Linked DNA regions of Homo sapiens. The protein of the gene in region 1 purifies or fractionates together with the protein of each later gene. This does not show direct contact. Each region holds a gene or a part of one and is shown on either strand. Other genes may lie near its edges.

Evidence for each region. The genes of interacting proteins can lie anywhere in the genome.
Region 2: the proteins of ZNRF4 (region 1) and PNPLA6 purify together in Homo sapiens (affinity purification with mass spectrometry; 3 studies listed by BioGRID and IntAct, with this or other methods). This does not show direct contact.
Region 3: the proteins of ZNRF4 (region 1) and SMPD2 purify together in Homo sapiens (affinity purification with mass spectrometry; 2 studies listed by BioGRID and IntAct, with this or other methods). This does not show direct contact.

Annotation. Positions count from the first base shown.
Region 1 is NC_000019.10:5,450,621-5,458,215, reverse strand, and holds ZNRF4 (E3 ubiquitin-protein ligase ZNRF4 precursor), read right to left. Parts: upstream 2,800-7,595; 5' UTR 2,725-2,799; coding exon 1,435-2,724; 3' UTR 1,360-1,434; downstream 1-1,359. UniProt on the Homo sapiens protein: E3 ubiquitin-protein ligase that acts as a negative regulator of NOD2 signaling by mediating ubiquitination and degradation of RIPK2. Also catalyzes ubiquitination and proteasomal degradation of CANX within the endoplasmic reticulum.
Region 2 is NC_000019.10:7,559,089-7,562,476, reverse strand, and holds the end of PNPLA6 (patatin-like phospholipase domain-containing protein 6), read right to left. Parts: coding exon 3,326-3,388; intron 1,830-3,325; coding exon 1,713-1,829; intron 1,464-1,712; coding exon 1,367-1,463; intron 1,270-1,366; coding exon 1,160-1,269; intron 990-1,159; coding exon 915-989; 3' UTR 713-914; downstream 1-712. UniProt on the Homo sapiens protein: Phospholipase B that deacylates intracellular phosphatidylcholine (PtdCho), generating glycerophosphocholine (GroPtdCho). This deacylation occurs at both sn-2 and sn-1 positions of PtdCho.
Region 3 is NC_000006.12:109,435,583-109,443,935, reverse strand, and holds SMPD2 (sphingomyelin phosphodiesterase 2), read right to left. Parts: upstream 3,213-8,353; 5' UTR 2,815-3,212; coding exon 2,765-2,814; intron 2,580-2,764; coding exon 2,483-2,579; intron 2,385-2,482; coding exon 2,308-2,384; intron 1,977-2,307; exon of another isoform or gene 1,963-1,976; coding exon 1,869-1,962; intron 1,727-1,868; coding exon 1,637-1,726; intron 1,394-1,636; coding exon 1,311-1,393; intron 1,185-1,310; coding exon 1,052-1,184; intron 960-1,051; coding exon 855-959; intron 670-854; coding exon 516-669; intron 420-515; coding exon 31-419; 3' UTR 17-30; downstream 1-16. Other genes in the region: PPIL6 (probable inactive peptidyl-prolyl cis-trans isomerase-like 6), read left to right, coding at 3,346-3,480, 7,737-7,832. UniProt on the Homo sapiens protein: Catalyzes, at least in vitro, the hydrolysis of sphingomyelin to form ceramide and phosphocholine. Also hydrolyzes 1-O-alkyl-2-lyso-sn-glycero-3-phosphocholine (lyso-platelet-activating factor) in vivo.

The DNA.
Region 1 (7,595 bases):
TTTCCTCCGTGATCTCCCTGATCATCCGCCAAGCTCTCTCCATCTCATGACCCCCTTGTGTTTTAGCCCCAGGATTTATCTCGTGCTGACATCTCCCTGCTCATTTATTTAATTATATACTTTGTATCTATCCCCCACCCTGGAATAGCAGTCCCTGGAGAGCAGGGACTTTCCCCTGTTTTGTTCACTGCTGTGTCTGTGTGCCTGGAACCGCGTCTGGCACAGAGTGGGCGCTCTCTGGAGGTTGCTTGGGCTTCAGTCGGAATCTTGCACGTGACTCTCACATTCACACTGTTCCAGGGAATGTCTCAGAGGCGACCTTGACCCTTTTGCTCCTATGACCTCACCTAGTAGCTATTTCTCGTCGGAGCATGGTCAAACAGCCCCCTCACTGCCCAGAAAACTCCCTTGCCTCCTTGCATTTTTTTTTTTTTTTTTTGAGACAGGGTCTCACTCTGTTGCCCGAGCTGAAGTGCAGTGGTGTGATCATAGCTCACCTCCCAGGCTCCAGCAATCCTCCCACCTCAGCCTCCCAAGTAGCTGGAACTACAGGCATGTATCACCACACTTGGCTAATGAATTTTTTTTTCTTTTTTGAGACGGAGCCTCACTGTCGCTAGGCTGGAGTGCAGTGGCGTGATCTCAACTCACTGCAACCTCCACCTCCTGGGTTCAAGCAATTCTCCTGCCTCAGCCTCCTGAGTAGCGAGCAGCTGGGACTACAGGCACGCACCACCACGCCCAGCTCATTTTTGTAGTTTTTAGTAGAGACAGGGTTTCACCATGTTGGCCAGGATGGTCTTGATCTCCTGACCTCATGATCCGCCCGCCTTGGCTTCTTAAAGTGCTGGGATTACAGGCGTAAGCCACTACGCCCGGCCTAAGAAAATTTTTTTGTAGAGGTGGGGTCTTGTTATGTTGCCCAGGCTGGTCTCAAACCTCTAACCTTGAGCGAACCTCCCACCTCGGCCTCCCATCCCATCACACCTGGGATCCCATGAGACATAAGAGGAAACGGAGTAAAAGGGGTTGGAGAACTCTATGGCACCTTTGCAACTTTTCTGGAAATCTAAACCAGTTCCAAAATAAAACGTTTATTTTAAAAGAAAAAATGTGAATGAAGAATAAGGCCATCCAGGATGAGTGACCCGTGTGCCCGGGACTGGAACCAAAGCACAGACGACCCGTCTCAAAGCCACTCCGGCACCACGGTCACAGCCGCCCCAAAAAGGCCCCCCAGCCCTCACCACCCCTCGCTCTCCCGCCCGCAGAAACGGGGATTGGCCTTAGGCTTGATGGGGATGGGTGTCCCCCAACCCCAGTCAGAGGCGGGTGGCCCAACAGCAGCGAGGCTGAGAATCCGCTTTCAAACCCACTTTATTCTTTTCAGACCAGAAACATTCCTCATTGCACCCCCCTCCCTGCCCTAGATCTTTACTGACCAGGGGCCTCAGGAGGGGCTGAGGAGACAGTGGTATACTCTGCCTCCAGGGACGTGGTGCTGCAGTGGCAGTGGGGACTGGCGCGGCCCAGCAGCTCCAGCCTCCGGGAGCGTAGCTGGACTTGAATGGCCCAGATGGGGGGCCGGTGGCCCGGTAGGGAGGGGTCCTCGTCCCTGAAGCTGTAGGTGGTGGAGTCAAAGCTGTCTTCTGTGGCGGCCACCGACTGTTTGCACACGGGGCAGGAGCGCCGGGGGGCTTGGGAGAACCAGGGGTCAATGCATTTGCAGTGGTAGGTGTGGGAGCAGGGCAGGATCTTGAGTTGGTCGCCCTCCTCATACTCATCCAGGCAGATGGCACACAGGTCGTTGTGCCACGTGAAGGTGCGGACCTGGGCCTTCTGGCAGGTAGACGTCTTCACCGGCCGTCTGTGGCTGCAGCAGGCCTGGGCCCAGAGCCACAGGTGGTTCAGGACAAAGAAGGCTGATACGACCAGGGCCAGGGTACAGCCCAGCACCCAGGACACGGTCAGCACGGGGTGACAGCCCAGGTCGTGGCACGGTGGGTCGTCGGGCAGGAGCAGCGCGTGGGCCGACTTGTTGCAGCCCAGGATGACCCGCAGGTCCTGCGAGGCGGCCTCGCTCACGAACACTGAGGGGATGGCGATCTGGCCCCTCAAGTCCTCGTAGACGTGGGTCATGCTCACGAGGTCGTCGGAGTGGACGTTGTGCACGATGGCCGCCTCGAAGCCGGCGCGCTGGGCGTTCAGCACCTTGAGGTCGAAGGTGCAGTCGTAGCGGCGGATCAGCACGATGGCGCCCAGAGAGCGGTTGCCCAGTCGCGGGGCCTCGATGGGATGGCACGCGTTGGCTGGCTTGACCTCCATCAGGTAGCCCCGTATGCCCTCGGGGGCCAGGGGGACGCCGAACAGCGCCGGCAGATCCGCAAAGTCCACCGAGCTCGAGTTGTCTTCCAGCACGGCCCGTACCACTGCCTGCGCGGGCACCTGGAGCAGCGACAAGACCAGCAAGGCTTTGACTGCCACGAGGGCTCGGCCCGGCCGTGGCCACCCCATGGTCACCCGCTTCGCTGTCTGTGTGCTGCTAGGTCCCACTGGAGGCGGCAGGCATGAGGCCTTTGGGCATCTCCGGGGTCTCCCAGGGGGCCTGTGGCCAGGACGCGAGGGCAGTTGAGTTGGAATGACCGCGTGGCTCAGAGGCAGTGACGCGGCCACTGGGACCCTGCTGGCTCTAGGCATTAAGTGCTCCGGACGGCAGAGCGGCATGCGTCGTGTCTTTGAAGGCCGGTCTCAGGAGGTGCTGGCGCAGGTGGCCTTTCTGGCAGATGACATGGAGACCAGGAGTCACCAGGGTTCTAGATGCCCCCAGCTTCTGTGACATCGCCCTGCTACATTCTGTCCCAGGAGCTGCCAGCTGCCTGGGCCTGTGGCCAATGGATCATTCCTAGGTCTGTGATTTGCCGGTACCCGGGCAAGCTTTGAGATAACTTCTTGAAGGCTCAGGGTATCTTTGGACCCAAGGAGGCCCAGGGATGCTTCAAAAGGGCTGCCGGCCCCCAGCAGTGCAGATTCAGCCCTCACTGTGCGAAGACGCTACCAGCATCAGCTTCTGGAGGTTCCTAGCAACACACTGTAGAAGGTTCAATGTTACCCTTGTCTGAGACTCCAAGAGTGACCCAGACTTGTTCAAGCCACGCCCCCCTACAATGAGATCAGTGCTTAAAACCCAAATTCCTGACCCCCTGTCACCATCCCTCACTCTGCTCCAGCCACACAGATCTCCTTGCTGTTCCTCCAACACACCAGGCAGGATCCTGCCCCAGGGCCTTTGCATGGGCTGGGCCTCCTGCCTGGAAAGCCCTTTCTCTCCGTAGCTGGCTCTTTTATCCGGACTCAGGTCTGAGTCCATATATCCTCAGAGCCCTCCTGGACTTGATTTGGAGGGAGAGTCAAGTGCCAGGGTCAGGGTGGGGCTGGTGGGGGTCAGTGGTCCCAAGTCCGCACCGCCAGGTTGGCCTCCAGGCTTGCACCAGCTTCATTCTCTCTCCCTATAGCATTGCCTCTCCAGCTGGGTCTCCAACTGTGCCCCCTGCCTGAGCTTCAGCCCTGGGCATCAGCCTCACCTCCTCCCCAGTCCCCATCCCCCAAATTTCACACCCTCAATCTGTCTGCAGCCCACTCAAGTCGGATTTCTGTCTCTGCCATTCATAAGCTGTATGACATCAGCTAAATTCCTTAGCCTCTCTGGGCCTCAGCTTCCAGACCTGTAACATAGTCTTTCCCATGCTCTAAACTCTCCCATGGCTCCCCATTGCCCTCCAGATAAAGCCCACACTCTTCTCTGTGGCCTACATGCACCCCTGTGGTTGGGCGCCTGCCAATCTCTGAAGCCTGGATGATTTGCAATGTCCCAGAGGCATCTTGCTTTGTTCACCTCTAGAATTTTGCAAATGCTGTTCCCTCTGCCTGGAACAGAATTCTTGCTCCTCAACTTCACTTTGCCAGGCTGACTACTTAGTCTTTAGATTTTCTGTGTTGGCCTAATACCTCTCAGAGCAGCCCTCAGCCAGTGACAGATGGGAGGTGGTAGATAAATGCCCCCACTCCCTCGTCCCTCTTATGGGACAAATCGAAGTATGTTCTACCATATCTCCTAGAGGTCCCCAGTCGAATGAGCTCCATAAGTCAACGAACCCAGTACTGTCTTGTCAATGAGCCCGCTACTGTCTCCTTCCCTTCCCCACCCACTTCTCTCCCCTCCCACAGCTTCTGAGATCACCTCCCACACAAATCTCTTGTACCATGTAGTGGGTGGGCCCCAAATAGAGATGTTGAACCCCTAACCCCTGGTTCTGACCAACCCCTGTGAATGGACCTTATTTGGAAATAAGATCTTTGCAGAGGTTTTCCTTCTAAGAAAGGGAGAAAAGGCCGGGCATGGTGGCTCATGTCCGTAATCCTAGCACTTTAGGAGCCCGAGGCGGGCAGATCAGTTGAGGCCACGAGCACATGCTGCCATGCCCGGCTAATTTTTGTATCTTAATAGAAACGGGGGTTTTGCTAGGTTGCCCAGGCTTGTCTCGAACTCCTGACCTCAAGTGATCTGCCAGTCTCAGCCTCCCAAAGTGCTGGGGTTACATTTGTGAGCCACCATGCCCGGCCCCTGGTGGCACTCCTGCCCCTGCTCTGTCTACTGCCACAGACGGAGGCCACACTATCTAGAGGCCACTGCCTTGGCCACTGTGGATGGCCCTTGCAGCCCAGTGCTACCAAGCAGAGGCAGGTTTTTCAGTCCAGCAGGCATGAGAGGAGGCAAGAGTGGAAAAACAGAAGCAGAGAGGGACAAATGTAGCGGTCAGGCTCGGGTTGGCTGTGGTAAGCAAGACCCAACCACAGCGGTGTAGGCGTACAGGGCTGATTTGCTTCTGAATGTGGAATGTGAGTAGTCATTCCTGGGATGGCATGGAGATGCTGGGGTGTCTGCAGCCCAGACTCCTTCCATCCACCATATCCTCAGTAAATGGCCTCCTCCTCGTGGGACAAGGCAGGTGCGTGAGCTCCAGCCATCACATCTGCCTCCCAGGCAATGAGGAGGAAAGAGTGAGGAAGAGCTCACCCTGTCCCTTTAAGGACACTTCTTGGAAATCCCAGGCACCACTTCTGCTCACACTGCATTGGCCAGAATTAGTCACGTGGCCATGCCTGGCAGAAAGCTTGCTGGGAAATGTAGTATTTATTCTGAATGGCCAACTGTGCAGCTGAAAACCAGGGCTTCTATTACTATGGAGGACAAGACAACAGATGTTGGAGGCGTCCAACACCACCTGTCACTCGGACACACTTGAGTAACCTGGCCTTCAATGGCTGCCCAATACATATTTGTTGAATGAATGAATCCCCACACCTCCAGCTTAGGCCTCCTTCAGTGGTGAGTGAGCTCACTGTCCCTGGGGATGGAAATGAGCTTTTCCCGGGCCCTTCTGTGCACCAGACTCCAGGCCATGTGGCTTCACTCCACCATTCAGCCACTGTGAGCCTCAGTTGCCCCTTCTGTAAAGAGGAGGCAGCATCAGCACCTGCACTGCGGGGTTCGCTGAGCATGGACGGTGCTAAGCATAGTGCCTACCACGTACGAAGTGCTCTGTTTGCATTTGTTGATGGCCTAAGTGACCTGCCCACAGCCCAGTTATAATATTGGGTGATCACAGCTACTCGGGAGGCTGAAGCGGGAACATCGCTTGAGCCTGGGAGTTTGAGGCTGCAGTGAGCTCTGATCATGCTGTGGCACTCCAGCAGCGGGCCACAGAGCAAGACCCCACCTCTAAAAATAAAATATTGAGTGATCAAACTGTGATGGGGAAAACTCAGGCACCGTGCCAACCCAAAGGGAGGCACCTGGCTTATTCTTTTTTTTTTTTTTTTTTTTGAGACGGAGTCTCGCTGTGTCGCCCAGGCTGGAGTGCAGTGGCACCATCTCAGCTCCCTGCAAGCTCTGCCTCCCAGGTTCACGGCATTCTCCTGCCTCAGCCTCCCGAGTAGCTGGGACTACAGGCGCCCACCACCATGCCCGGCTAATTTTTTGTATTTTTAGTAGAGACGGGGTTTCACTGCATTAGCCAGGATGGTCTCGATCTCCTGACCTCGTGATCCGCCCGCATCGGCCTCCCAAAGTGCTGGGATTACAGGCATGAGCCACCGCGCCCGGCCGCACCTGGCTTATTCTAGAGAATCTAGAAGGCTTCCTGGAGGTGGTGTCTTCTAGACTGAGATCAGAATGAGCAGTGGATAGTGCTATGAACAGGAAACGCGATCCTGGCAGCTAGAACAGCACGGGCAAACGCCCTGCCTGAGTAGCCTGGTCTGGCATCCAGTAGATGCTTAATAAGTGAACATAGAACTCCTTGCCATCACTCAGGGCCTGCCCCCTCTGAAAAAGGGTCTCAGCTTCATCCCAGCTTCCTCAGTCCCCCAACAGCCAGGCCTGGGCCCTTCTCCAGACGCCTCCACGAAAGCAGAGTGGTGCCAAGGACTGGCAGCTTAACGAGGCCGGCCTGTGCCAGCCCCGCCAGCCCCCACCTTGGCTGCTGTTCTTCGTGAGAAGCTGCCGAGGCCCCCTCCTGCCCAGCCAGGTGGCGCCCCGTCTGTGTTTGTCTAAGGGGGAGTGTGGCCAAATGGGGAAACTGAGCCCCAGAGGAGGGGGGCACTCGGGGATGGCAGGAGCCACCAGCACTGCCACTGAGCAATGCAGCCTGCAGCCTGTGACCGTGCCTTGCGGGAAACTCCGCTGACCCCCTGCATCCAGGGCCAGGTTCCTGTGGACACCCCATCTTCTAGAGGGGGGAAACTGAGTCTGTGACAGGGGACCAGACTCACTAGGACTACAAAGCCGCAAAGTGACTGAGCTGGGATTTGAACCCTGGCCCCATGAATGCACTCACTGAGTATTTAGGGTTCCCCACTGGGTGCCCACATCTGCGCTGGGAAACACAGCGGACTCCAAGAGTTCTCCAGCCCCTGCCCAGCCCTCAAGGAGCCCCAGGCTTGGGTAAGAGATGGACCCAGACAGCCAGGGCTGAGGGAGCCCAGATAATGGGGTTCAGGGCAGGCTTCCTGGAGGAGGGGAGATTTCAAGTGGACTTGAAGGACAAGTAGGAACTTGGCAAGAAAAGTGGAAGTTGGGGGAAAGAGCACACCAGGCGATGCCTGGTTCACAGTCCGTGTGAAGGGACGGGCGGTGCAGTTGATTCTGAGCATTTTGGAGAATTGCAAAATAAGTCCTTAGGGCTAAGATGAGGGAGGGCTGGGATGTTTGAGGACTTAATTACCAAGTGAACTTAATTACCAGGAAAAGGCATTTGCTTGTGTTGTCACTGATTTGTCTATTCTGCCATTCAGCAAGCATTCCCTGAGGCTGCACCCTGGCTGGGCGAGGCTAGGTAGGTTCCAGGGCATCTGCAAATGAGGACTGGGGCTTTTGCCCACAGGAGGACTCAGGGAGCTCAGGGCTGGTGCCTGCTGGATTAAACCTCCCCACACTCCTGCAAGAGAGGCATGTTAATTCCACCTTCCAGATGAGGAACAGAGAGGTGATTCGATTTACCTGAAGCCACACAGCATACCAGGGGCCAAGCCTGAAT
Region 2 (3,388 bases), 2.1 Mb from region 1:
AGACCAGACTGGCCAACATGGTGAAACCCCTTCTCTACAAAAAATACAAAAATTAGCCAGGCATGGTGGTGCTCGCCTGTGGCCCCAGCTACTTGGAAGGCTGAGGCATGAGAATCACTTGAATCCAAGAGCTGGAGGCTGCAATAAGCTGAGATCGCATCACTGCACTCCAGCCTAGGTGACAGAGAGAGACACTGTCTCAAAAATTAAAACAAAAAACAAAACAAAACCAAAAAACCCCCCCACAAAATTTAGCTGGGTGTGGTGGCGGGCGCCTGTAATCCCAGCTACTCAGGAGGCTGAGGCAGGAGAATCGCTTGAACCCGGGAGATGGAGGTCGCAGTGAGCAGAGATCATGCCACTGCACTCCAGCCTCCAGCCTGGGTGACAGAGTGAGACTCCATCTCAAAAAAAAAAACACAAAAAACAAAAAACACACAGAAAGAAATTGAGGGGTGCCATATCGGGCCCCCAAGAGCACCTGTGAGCCCGGGAGGGTGGCACGGAATGTCTGGCCCTGTGGTCCGGAGTCAGCACTGGCTTCTGAGGAGCCAGAGAAGGGGCAGAGTGGGGACAAGCACCTAGTGGGGCTCCGTGTGGATTCTAGAAAGGCATTCCCTGTGGGGGGCAAGCACCAGGTGGTGTCAGACCCCAGCCCCAGCCATCCTGAGCACAGAAGGTGGGTCCCCAGTCCGAAAACGACAGGAAGCCATTTCCAAGAGGCGAGTTTATTGGGGGAGGGGCTGGTCAAGTCATCAGTGCAACACTGCATCCCCGCTCAGGGCAGGTCAGTCCAGTGTGTGGGCCGCGGGGGTCACAGGCATAGCAGCAGGAGGGGGAGTGAGCTACCCCCACGGGGCCACCCCCAGCCCAGTCCAGGGGTGGGAGGGAGGGGGTGACCCCTGTCGAGGTCCTCAGGCATCTGTGGCTGAGCCGGGCGGCTCCTGGGGCAGACAGCGTCGTTGCCGGAGAATCGACTTCTCCTCCTCCTGCGAGGGAAGGTCACACACACGTCACCCAGCACGGGACACTGATGCGTCACATGTCAGCCAGCACCCAGCACACACAGGATCTCAAATACGCCCCCGGCTCCCCTGCCTGACACTGTACTCATGACCCTCTGGGGGATGTGAGGGGACCCTGGGCCACCCACTCTCACCATCTCGGAGGCAGTGCTGGGGCTTGCGCCCTCGGGGGACCCCCCTTCATCCCTCGAGCAGTCGGGTCCGGCGTCCTCCTCATACTCTGTCAGACAATCTGACTCCTCTCCTGGAATCGGGGAGCAGGGCACAGGTGAGGGGATTGGGGCTGGCCTGCCATCTCCAGCCACTCCCCTCCCTCTTGGGGGGTCCCCTGGGCCCCTCACCGTCAGCACAGCCATCAGAGACATAGCTCGTGGGGGGCTCAATCCGGGACACAATCTCTGCCAAGTCAGTGAAGCCAGAGCTTGGGAAGGCAAGCACCTGTGGGGTGACACTGGTGAGGCTCTTAGGGGGGGCCCACAGAGTCTTGGGGCCCCTGGGGGGCCCAGTGGTGCATTGGGGGCTCAGAGGAGATCCTAGGGTGGGAACTCTCTGAAGTCAGCAGAGGTCTGAGAGCTCAGCAAAACCCAGGGACATGTGGGGTCATCTGAGGTTTCGGGGAGACTTTAAGGGGGCTTGGGTTCTGTAATCAGTGGAGTCAGAGTGGCCCTGGGGGCATCACAGGCTTACGTCTGCACGGCGGCTCTCATTAAGGTCTGTAGACCGCCGGTCTGTGAGCATTTTCTCAATGACGTTGCCACGGCTCCAGCCTCCAAACACCGCCTTCCCGTACTGGTAGCCCACATCCTGTGGGAAATGAGGGGCTGGGTCCATGTCTGCAACCCTGCTTTGCTTGTCCCCACTCTGTCTGCCCATTCTCTGGCCCCTCAAAAGCCTGATTCTCTGGGGGAGTTGCATTTGAGACTAAACCTATTTCAGAGTCAGCTGCACATAGCACACTCGCCTACACATCCCCTGTCCTGCCCTTGACAGACATTACCAATCAATCTCTCCATGTTCTTTCCCACACAGCCCCATGCAGGGTGCTGGGTAGCAAATAACACAAGGTGGTGATGTGTGAGCTTATTTTGAAGTCTGCAAACAGGCAGTACATCTGTGGATGTCGCCATCCCCAAGCCCACAGCAAACATCTTGAATTTCTCATGGCATGCTATCCCAGTGAGCCCACAAGGGACATCACACATCTCTTCTCAGACTCAGGGCTTCTGGGCTGCAGCTACTGATCAATTTCTTTCTTTTTAAAAAAATTTTTATTATTTTTATCTTTAATTTTTAAAATTAATATTATTTTTTGAGACAGAGTCTCACTCTGTCACCCAGGCTGGAGTGCAGTGGCACAATCTTGGCTCACTGCAACCACTGCCTCCTAGGTTCAAGCGATTTCTCCTGCTGCAGCCTCTCAAGTAGCTGGGACTATAGGCATGTGCCACCACACCCAGCTAATTTTTGTATATTTAGTAGAGATGAGGTTTCACCATGTTGACCAGGCTGGTCTTGAACTCCTGACTTCAAGTGATCTGCCCACCTCGGCCTCCCAAAATGCTGGGATTAAATGCATGAGCCACCATGCCTGGCCCTTTCTTTTTCTTAGAGACAGAGTTTTGCTCTGTCACCCAGGCTGGAGTGCAGTGACGCAATCATAGCTCACTGCAGCTTCAAACTCCTGGGCTCGAGCGGTCCTCCCACCTCAGCCCCCTAAGTAGCTGGGGTGACAGGCATGCACAACCACACCCAGCTAATTTTTTATTTTTAATCTTTGTAGAGATGGGGTTTTGCTATGTTGCACAGGCTGGTCTTGAACTCCTGGTTTCAAGCAATCCTCCCACCTCAGCTTCCCAAGGTGCTGGGATTACAAGCATGAGCCACCATGCCTGGCCCCCTGATCAATTTCAATTGGCTTGGGCTATGGCACATTTTTCAGGGTCAGTAGCACATAACACACGCACTGCTACCTCCCTCTCCTGGAACTGTGGCAGACATTTCTGCTTCATCACTATTCTCATTCCCACCAATGCAGAAATGGCAGTAGAAATCACTATACAGTGCTTCCAGGGGTGCAGCTGGCCTATAAGGAGAAAGTTCTTACACAGCACATGCACAGCCACACCCCTACTACATCCCCTGCAGACATCACCAATTGATCACTGATCTGTTTTCCAGAGATTCCAGATGGGATTCCTGGATTCCTCCTGGATTCCTCCCCCTCATACCACTCTGGGCTTTAAGTAGCAAAGCTTAGCCGGACCACCTATGCAGGCACCATGCCACTCCTGCCCACTCACATAGATCTGGTCGAACTTCCCAAAGTCCATGGTCTTGAAGCAGTCGATGGGCGGGCGCAGGTA
Region 3 (8,353 bases), on another chromosome or scaffold:
AAAAAGGCAGAGCCACTAAAGGGCCAAGCTTTATTGTTCTTTAGTTCTGTCCCCCTCCTGCTGCCCCAGGAGTAGGGCTGGCTGAGGCTCTGGGCCCAGATCCTGGGCCTCCCTTGCCCTTCCTAGCACATGCTGGAGCTCAGCCTGGGCCCTATATAAGCCATTGACCTCCTGTACGTGGAAGAGGTAGAATGCACCTGCCCACAGCACCAGCCCTACACTGGGGGTCCAGAGCAGTATGGCAGCTTCCCCGGCCCCTCCTCCAGCCGCCAGGACACACAGCAGTGCCAGGAGAAGCAGCCCCAGGCCAATCACATAGCTAGCGAAGGTGGCCCACCAGCGAGCCTGAGCCATGCCCAGACCCAGCTCCGTCCAGGCCTCCTTTAGCACACACATCAACGGCGACCTCTCTGCTGGTCCTACAACAGAGCAGGGCAGTGGGGCAGGAGAGAGTCAAGAGTGGAAGGGCTGCTTCAAGCGGGGCAAGGGCCAAGGAAAGGGTGGGGGTGACTCACCGTGGGTAGAGCTGGGGTTCTGCTGTGGGGGGCTGTGCCTCACAAACAGAGTAGCCATCAGGGCTTCATGATCAGAGAGGGGGGTGCCCCTGTGAGGGTCAAAGCCTGTAGTGGTTTCAAAACTCTTACAGGAGATGTAAAACCCAGAAACTGCCTAGGAAAAGTAAGGGCCAGAGAGAAGCTTATATATGAGGGCCTCTTCCCAGAGAACCAGCTCCCGGCTACCCCACTTTCCACCCATCAGTGGTCCAAGACTAGACTAGCTGAGCAAAGGATCTACACAGGTTAGTAGACAAAGAGACACAGCATATGAAAGCATGTTGAAGGGAGGAGCCTGACCTTGTAAAGCACGTAGTCAATGCGGACACCAAAGGGAAATGGCTTCAGCTCCTGCTGGCTGACGTAGCAGTTCTTGGGTACCATTGTGTTGCCTTCCTCAGAGCCCTAAGGGAATCATTGGCTCATGCTAGGATGTGGGGGAGAAGGAGGGAGAGAAGCTGGGGATATAGGTGGGGAAGTAACAGGCAAGTCCTCACCTTGAAGTCCCGAGTTTCAAGATAGGCATCATGAAGCCCTGTCCACTCCTTCAGCAGGCAGCAGCCCAGGTCTTCTGGGTGCATGTTGAGGTCTCCACACAACAGAACCACGTCTGCCTTCTTGGATGTGTGGCTGGGGGAACCAGGTTGGTGAGGCGGGAGTTCTTCCATCACCAGCTCTTCCCCATGACTGGGGCCTTGTTCACCCTCAGCCCCTGGGTCCCATCCCACTTCCCATTTCAAGCCCAGGCTCACACACTGGATGAACTGGGCCAATTCCCAAGCTTGGGCCACACGATGTGCTAGGTAGATGTCCTTCTGTCGATTGTATTCGGCATGGAGCTGAGCAAGATAGATGAGATCACAGCAGATAAGACTGAGGGTCCCAGGGGTATGTCTGAATCAAGCCTGTGTCTGTCACTTGGCATGGTGTTTGGTATACAATGGATAAGCCTTGCCCATTGCTTCCTTATAAGATCTTGCCCCCACACCTCATCCCCAGGTATGAGAGCTAGAGAAGTACCATCTCTCTGTCCCAGGACTGGGCTGCATGTCCCAGCCCTAGGCACTGCCAGCTTCACTCACATGGGTCACATAGGCGTTGAGCACCATGCCACTTAGATGGAGCACCAGCAGCCCCACAGCCTTCCCACTGAACCAGTCACCATGATGGATCTGCAGGCAGGAGGAGATAGAAACTCAGGGCACCGCCACCATCTTTCTGCCCATCCCCTGCAGCTCTCAGAGGGCTGCCTCCTCTACCTTGTATTACTGGAGGTGGGGAAGGGAGGTGGAAGAGGTCAAAGGTCTGCCTTACCATGTAGGGGTAGCCATTGAGAGTGTAGATGTGCTGGGTAAGCTCCTGGATTGGATGTTTGGAGAAGACACAGAGGCCACTGCCAATGATTCCGCTGAAAGCCAAGCCCTGCTTAATAACCAGAAAAACAGGGAGAGACACCCAGCCTTCTTCCCCTCCCTTGTCTTCCAGCTCTGATCAGCTATTTTTTTCTTTTTCTACTGCTGGGACTAGCCCTAGAACCAAGGCGACAGCCTTTGGAGGAGTATAGGGCAGCCAGAAAACAAAGCTGAAATGGGCTGAAGTCATAGGACCTTCTTGGTTCACCCTTCTCCTTCTCTCACATCCAGAGGGAGAGGAGGCTGGAGGAGACTGGAGAGTGCAGGCAGGATAGGGAAGGGCTGGCAGGGCCAAGAGCCTCCTGGGATGACAACAGGCTTCAGGCCAGTGGGCTTCTCACCTCCGGAAGTGGTGTGCAGCTGGGTAGGTAGGTGACAGCTTCTGTCTCAGGTACTGGAAGTCCTGCTCACTCCACACCTGAGGGAAGCGGTGAGGATGCCTGCTTGGTCTTTCCCCAGTGGGACGGTCTGTCCCTCCTCCCAGCCTGGGTTCCGCACCGTGCTGCACAATCTCACCTCCTCCAGCAAAGCCAGGTCGAAGCTCTCCTGGTTCAGAAAGTCTCCCAGGCGCCTCATGCGGTCGGCCCGGTGCTTGCTCAAGTACGGAATGCCCCTAAGGAAGGGAAGAGCGGGGCAGGGGAGGCGACTGCTGGGACCACCGGCGCTGGGGCCAGATGTGGACTTTGGAGGTTCGGGTTTTCCCTACACCCTGAGATCGTGGGGCGGGATAGGGGGAGGAAGGCTGCATGGGTGCGAACGGAAGGTGGCCCCCAGACCGCACTCCGCAGACGCACTCACCAGCAGTTGAGGTTGAAGATCCGCAGTCGCAGGGAGAAGTTGGGCTTCATGGTTGGGGAGCTCCAGGGGCGCTAGGCGGCTCGAACTCTCCAGCGACGGCCGCGGTGGGGACGGGGGCGGCCGGCGGCGCCTTCTCCCCAGACCGTTCCTTCTTCGCAGGCGGCGCGCACAGGTGGGCACCAAGCCCGCGTGGCTCAGGTCGGGCCCGACTCCCGCGTTCCCCCGGCAACCGGCCGGCTGTTCCCAATCAGGCGGGCCGCCAACCCGGAAAGGCGATCCGCTGCCGAAATCCGGGCGCCCAGGCTCGGTAAGGGCCGCGCGCTAGGACCCTGGGGGTCCGGAGAGCGCCCCCGGGTGGGCGGCTCCCGGTTCCTTTTCCTCCAAGCTCGTCCCCGGCGGTCGCGGCCGCCCGCGCGCCGGCGGCCCAGCAACAGGCGCAAAGTTGAGGAAAGGCCCAGCCGCCACGGGCCGCCCTCGACCCGCCCCTGGGCCCCGCCTCCTGCGAGCGGCGGAGGCGGGGCCGCGCGGTTGCCGGAGCGACGCGCAGTGTTTGGGGTCACCGGGCGTCCCCGGGCGCGGCCATGGCAAGGCCGCAGCCGTGCGGGCCCCCGCACGCTAGGTGCGGCTCGCCGTCGCTGCCGGAGCGGCCGCTGCAGGTGAAGGTGGTGGGGCTCTTCAGCTGCCCCAACTTTCAGATTGCGAAGAGCGCCGCTGAGGTAACCACAGAGAAACCTCCGTCGTGGGCGGCCCTCCCCGCTACCCGCTCTCGGCCGCGTGGACTGCAGGCGCCGCGCCTCCTCGAGGCGGCGGGGGTCGAGGCCCCACCGGCCGAGGAAGGGGCTGGCGTGTCCTGGCCGGGCGGGCTCCGTCTGGAGGACCGGGAGGAGAGTATAGGGGGGCAAGTGCGGGTCCGGGGGCGGGCGTTCCACTTGGCGACTTTTAAAGGGAGAACTGAGCGAAGGAAGGGTTCAGAACCGCGCTGGGAGATAAGGTAATCCCCTCCGAGACACACACACACACACCCGCAGATTTTGTTCTACGTCAATTTTTTCTTTAATTAGAGATATTTAAATTTATGGAAAAATGATTACTATATAACTAGCTAATTTTTACAACCCCGCCACCTCGGCCCAAGCGATTTTTGTTAACTATTCATGCGGGGAGATTCTTTTCTTTGAATTTTATAGAGCCGTCACTGCGTTCCAATCGAACTAGATGCTTCACAAGTGCTTTGGAAAATCATTTCTTTGTAAACACTCAGAACGATACTAAAGGAAAAGCACTTGAGGAAACTGGAAGAATTTGGCCAGATCAGTCATGCTGCAGCACACTTACAACCTGAAATGCAGGAGAAATGTATGAAATGTCGGCATGTAGAATTCAGCCCTTCTTACAGGGTTTGCTCCAGAAATGCTGTCCATGGCAAACTTCTCGCCGAAGCTCACTTGACTCCAGGACCATGCCTTAATTAATGTTTTTAACTCCCGAAGTACCCAGCTGGATACTTGACAACAAAATGTTCCCAAATAGAAGATATCTTGGCGCGGTGACTCACGCCTATAATCTCAGCACTTTGGGAGGCAGAGGCGGAGTTCTAGACCAGCCTGGCCAACATGGTGAAACCCCGTTTCTACTAAAAATACAAAAAATTAGCCGGGCGTGGTGGCGGTCTCTGTAATCCCAGCTACTCAGGAGGCTGAGGCACAAGAATCGCTTGAACCCGGGAGGCGGAGTTTGCAGAGAGCTGAGATCGCGCCATTGCCCTCCAGCCTGGGCGACAGAGCCAGACCCCGTCTCAAAATAAATAAATAATAAAAAGAAAACAAGTGATCAGAAGTCTGTGAAAATAATACATGAATCATCAAAAGTAGAAATTGTGGTCTGTGTTGCTTGGGCAGACGGGATCAGCAACCTTTTATTACCAAAGTTAATGGCCATGAAGTTAATTACAAAGTTAATGTATTAATGAGTTTCAGAGATTTTTTTTCTCTTTTTTTTCGCTCTTTTTCTGAAGGCACATATTTTCTGTGCCGACTCCACATTGTAAAGAAAGTGTTGACAAGTTTTTTTCTGTAAAGTCCAGATAGTAAATATGTTAGGCCTTCTTGGCAATAGGGTCTCAGTCACACCTGTTTAGCTTTTTCCTGTGTTGCAAAAGCAGACACAGAGATGGAAATGAATGACAGTATTCCAGTAAAACCATATTATGGACACGAAATTTGACTTGCGTATAATTTTCACATAACGTGAAATACAATTCTTTTGATTTTTTAGAATTGTTTACAGGCCGAGCGCGGTGGCTCTTGCCTATAATCCCAGCACTTTGGGAGGCTGAGGCGGGCAGATCACGAAATCGGGAGTTCAAGACCAGCCTGGCCAACATGGTGAAACCCCATCTCTACTAAAAATACAAAAATTATCCAGGCATGGTGGCGGGCGCCTGTAATCCCAGCTACTCGGGAAGCTGAGGCTGGAGAATCGCTTGAACCCGGGAGGTGGAGGTTTCGGTGAGCTGAGATCGTGCCACTGTGCTCCAGCCTGGGCAACAAGAGTGAGACTCTGTCTTAAAAAAAAAAACAAAAAACTGTTTACAAATCTAAAAATTATTCCTCTCCAACCCCTGATGTAGAAGACAGTAGGTCGAGAAAACAATATCTTTATTGTATTAATAATGTCAATTTTCCCTTTCTTAAACTTTTACCTACTGTAGTTATATTCAAATATGAAAATTCAGCTAGTTTTTTTTTTCTTTTTTTGGAAGAGATGGGGGTCTCACTGTGTTGCCTAGGCTGGTCTTGAACTCCTGGGCTCAAGCAATCCTCCTCGACCTCCCGAAGTGCTGGGATTATAGGCATGGGCCACGGTGATGCCCAGCCTCTAGTTCTGTCTTAATAAAGGATATCTGAATGTATTCCTAACATGATAATTTGTGAGCGATCCCAGATGCCTGATTAACTGACAAAGATTTAGATTTGTGTTGAATGTTCCCAACACAAAGAAATAATAAATGTTTGAGATGATGGATATGCTAATGATAAGTATACATTATATGTATTGAGACATCACTACCCCATAAATATGTGCAATTATTATATGTCAATTGAAAAATAAAAAACAAAATGTAAAAACCAAACACACAAAAGATTGAAATTTGTAGAGAATAGGAACAAATATTGCATACATTTTCATTTGGATATAGTCCGTTCTACAACAAATACTAAATTACTAAAAAGACATGTGTTTCATTTGAAAACTGCTGGATTTATAGTTTATTCCAGATGGTTAGAAATAGCAGTCAACCGGGCCAGGTGCGGTGGCTCACGCCTGTAATCCCAGCACTTCGGGAGGCTGAGGCAGGCAGATCGCCTAAGGTCAGGAGTTCAAGACCAGCCTGGCCAAGACCAGCCTGGCCAACATGGTGAAACCTCGTCTCTGCTAAAAATGCAAAAATTAGCTGGGCGTGGTGGCGGGTGCCTGTAATCCCAGCTACTTGGGAGGCTGAGGTAGGAGAATTGCTTGAACCCAGGAGACGGAGGTTGCAGTGAGCTGAGGTCACACCGCTGCACTCCATCCTGGGCAACAGAGCGAGACTCCGTCTCAAAAAAAAAAAAAAAAAAAAAAAAGAAAAGAAATAGTAGTCAACCTGCAGTATTGCCTCAAACTGAGCACAGACACTGGAACTGAGAAACAAGATGCGTCAGCTATTGCTTGGGGACAGAAGGAAATGGCCTAATTATTGTTGCCCTCTTCATGAGTATTCCCAAAGTAGGCCACACTCACATCCTGGTTTTCTCCCCTTGGAATACTCACCCCTGATGACCTGTGCTAGGCCAGCACCCTCTTTTGGACCATGACAGGACCTCCAAGCACTGTCCCTAGCAGGGAAGTGCCACCTGCAGCAGCTGTCACTTTTCCCTTTGGTCCATCTACTTCCCAAACCCACTCAGAAAAGAGGCCTGTTACTGCTTCACCTGTGTTCTCTTGCTTTAGAGGGAGACAAAGTATAACGAATATCAAGAACCAAGCCTGGATTGCTAACCAATAAGAATTTTCTCTGATTCCTGCAGACAATCTATGTCAAACTAGAACATATTCCGTATCTAAACCTAAACTGATTTCGTACTTCTCTTTTTCCTAAGGGGTATAACCACAACGTTATTATCTTTTTGGTCATCCCCCATTCATCAGTGAATTAAAGCAAGAACATTTATTTATTTATTTTAGTTATAAGTAAAGTATCTGTAGATCCACCGAGGTTTAGCAAGAGTTGTACTTAGGGAAAAACTAGTCTTAAAGAACATAGCATATCACAAAGCTATTGGCGTTAACCCATTTATGTATTCCTCTCTTTATTCAGCTGCTGTGTGCCAGAGATTGTGGCAGGTGGGAATATAGGAATACTAAGACAGAGTTTTTTTTGTTTTGTTTTGTTTTTTTGTTTTTTGTTTTTTGAAATAGAGTCCCACTCTGTCACCCAGGCTGGAGTGCAGTGGCGTGATCTCTGCTCACTGCAACCTCTGCCTCCCAGGTTCAAGTGATTCTCTTGCCTCAGCCTCCCAAGTAGCTGGGATTACAGGCACACACCCACCATGCCTGGCTAATTTTTTTGTATTTTTAGTAGAGACACGTTTTTGCCATGTTGGCCAGGCTGGTCTCAATCTCCTGACCTCAGGTGATCTGCCCACCTCAGCCTCCCAAAGTGCTGAGATTACAGGTGTGAGCCACTGCGCCCAGCCTCTAAGACATAGTTCTTGGCTTCGAGGCACTTATACAAATAAGCTCCCTGGACTGGGGAGCAACTTGGAGGTGAACACAAGGGCCTCTGACAGCGAGCAAGGAATATCTCAGTCGGACTGCATGGCCTGGGCTTGTGTTGTATAAAACTTCTGGAAACCCCGTAAAAATTGGGGAACATGATTTTGACTTTAAAAGAGAACTAACTCTAAAATAATTATTCTATTTCGAAATCCAGAATCTGAAGAATAATCATCCATCCAAATTTGAAGATCCTATATTAGTTCCTCTTCAAGAATTTGCATGGCATCAATATCTACAGGAGAAAAAAAGGGTAAAGGATATTTGGGGTGTGGGGGATATAGACAACAAGCCAAGTTTTGCCTGAATTATTTATGCATTGTTTTGGAAAAACTGAAAGAGTAATTTTAGTGTAACTAGATTTTATTTCTCTACATTACGTACTTTTCCTAAATTGTATTAATCATTTACCAAGCTAGGTGTTTTGTTTTTGAGACAGGGTCTCACTCTGTTACCCAGGCTGGAGTGCAGTGGGGCGATCTTGGCTCACTGCAGCTTCAACCTCCTGGATTCAAGCAGTCCTCCTACCTCAGCCCCGCAAGTAGCTGGGATTACAGGCACACGCCACCACACCTAGCTAGTTTTTGTATTTTTTTAACAGATGGGGTTTCACCATGTTGCCCAGGGTAGTCTCAAACTCCTGAGCTCAAGTGATCCACCCACCTCGGCCTCCCAAAGTGCTGGGATTACAGGCGTGAGTCACTGAGCTCGGCCACCAAGCTGTTTTTTGTTCTTGTTTTTGTTTTTGACTACAACATTTGGGCTGGGTGTGGT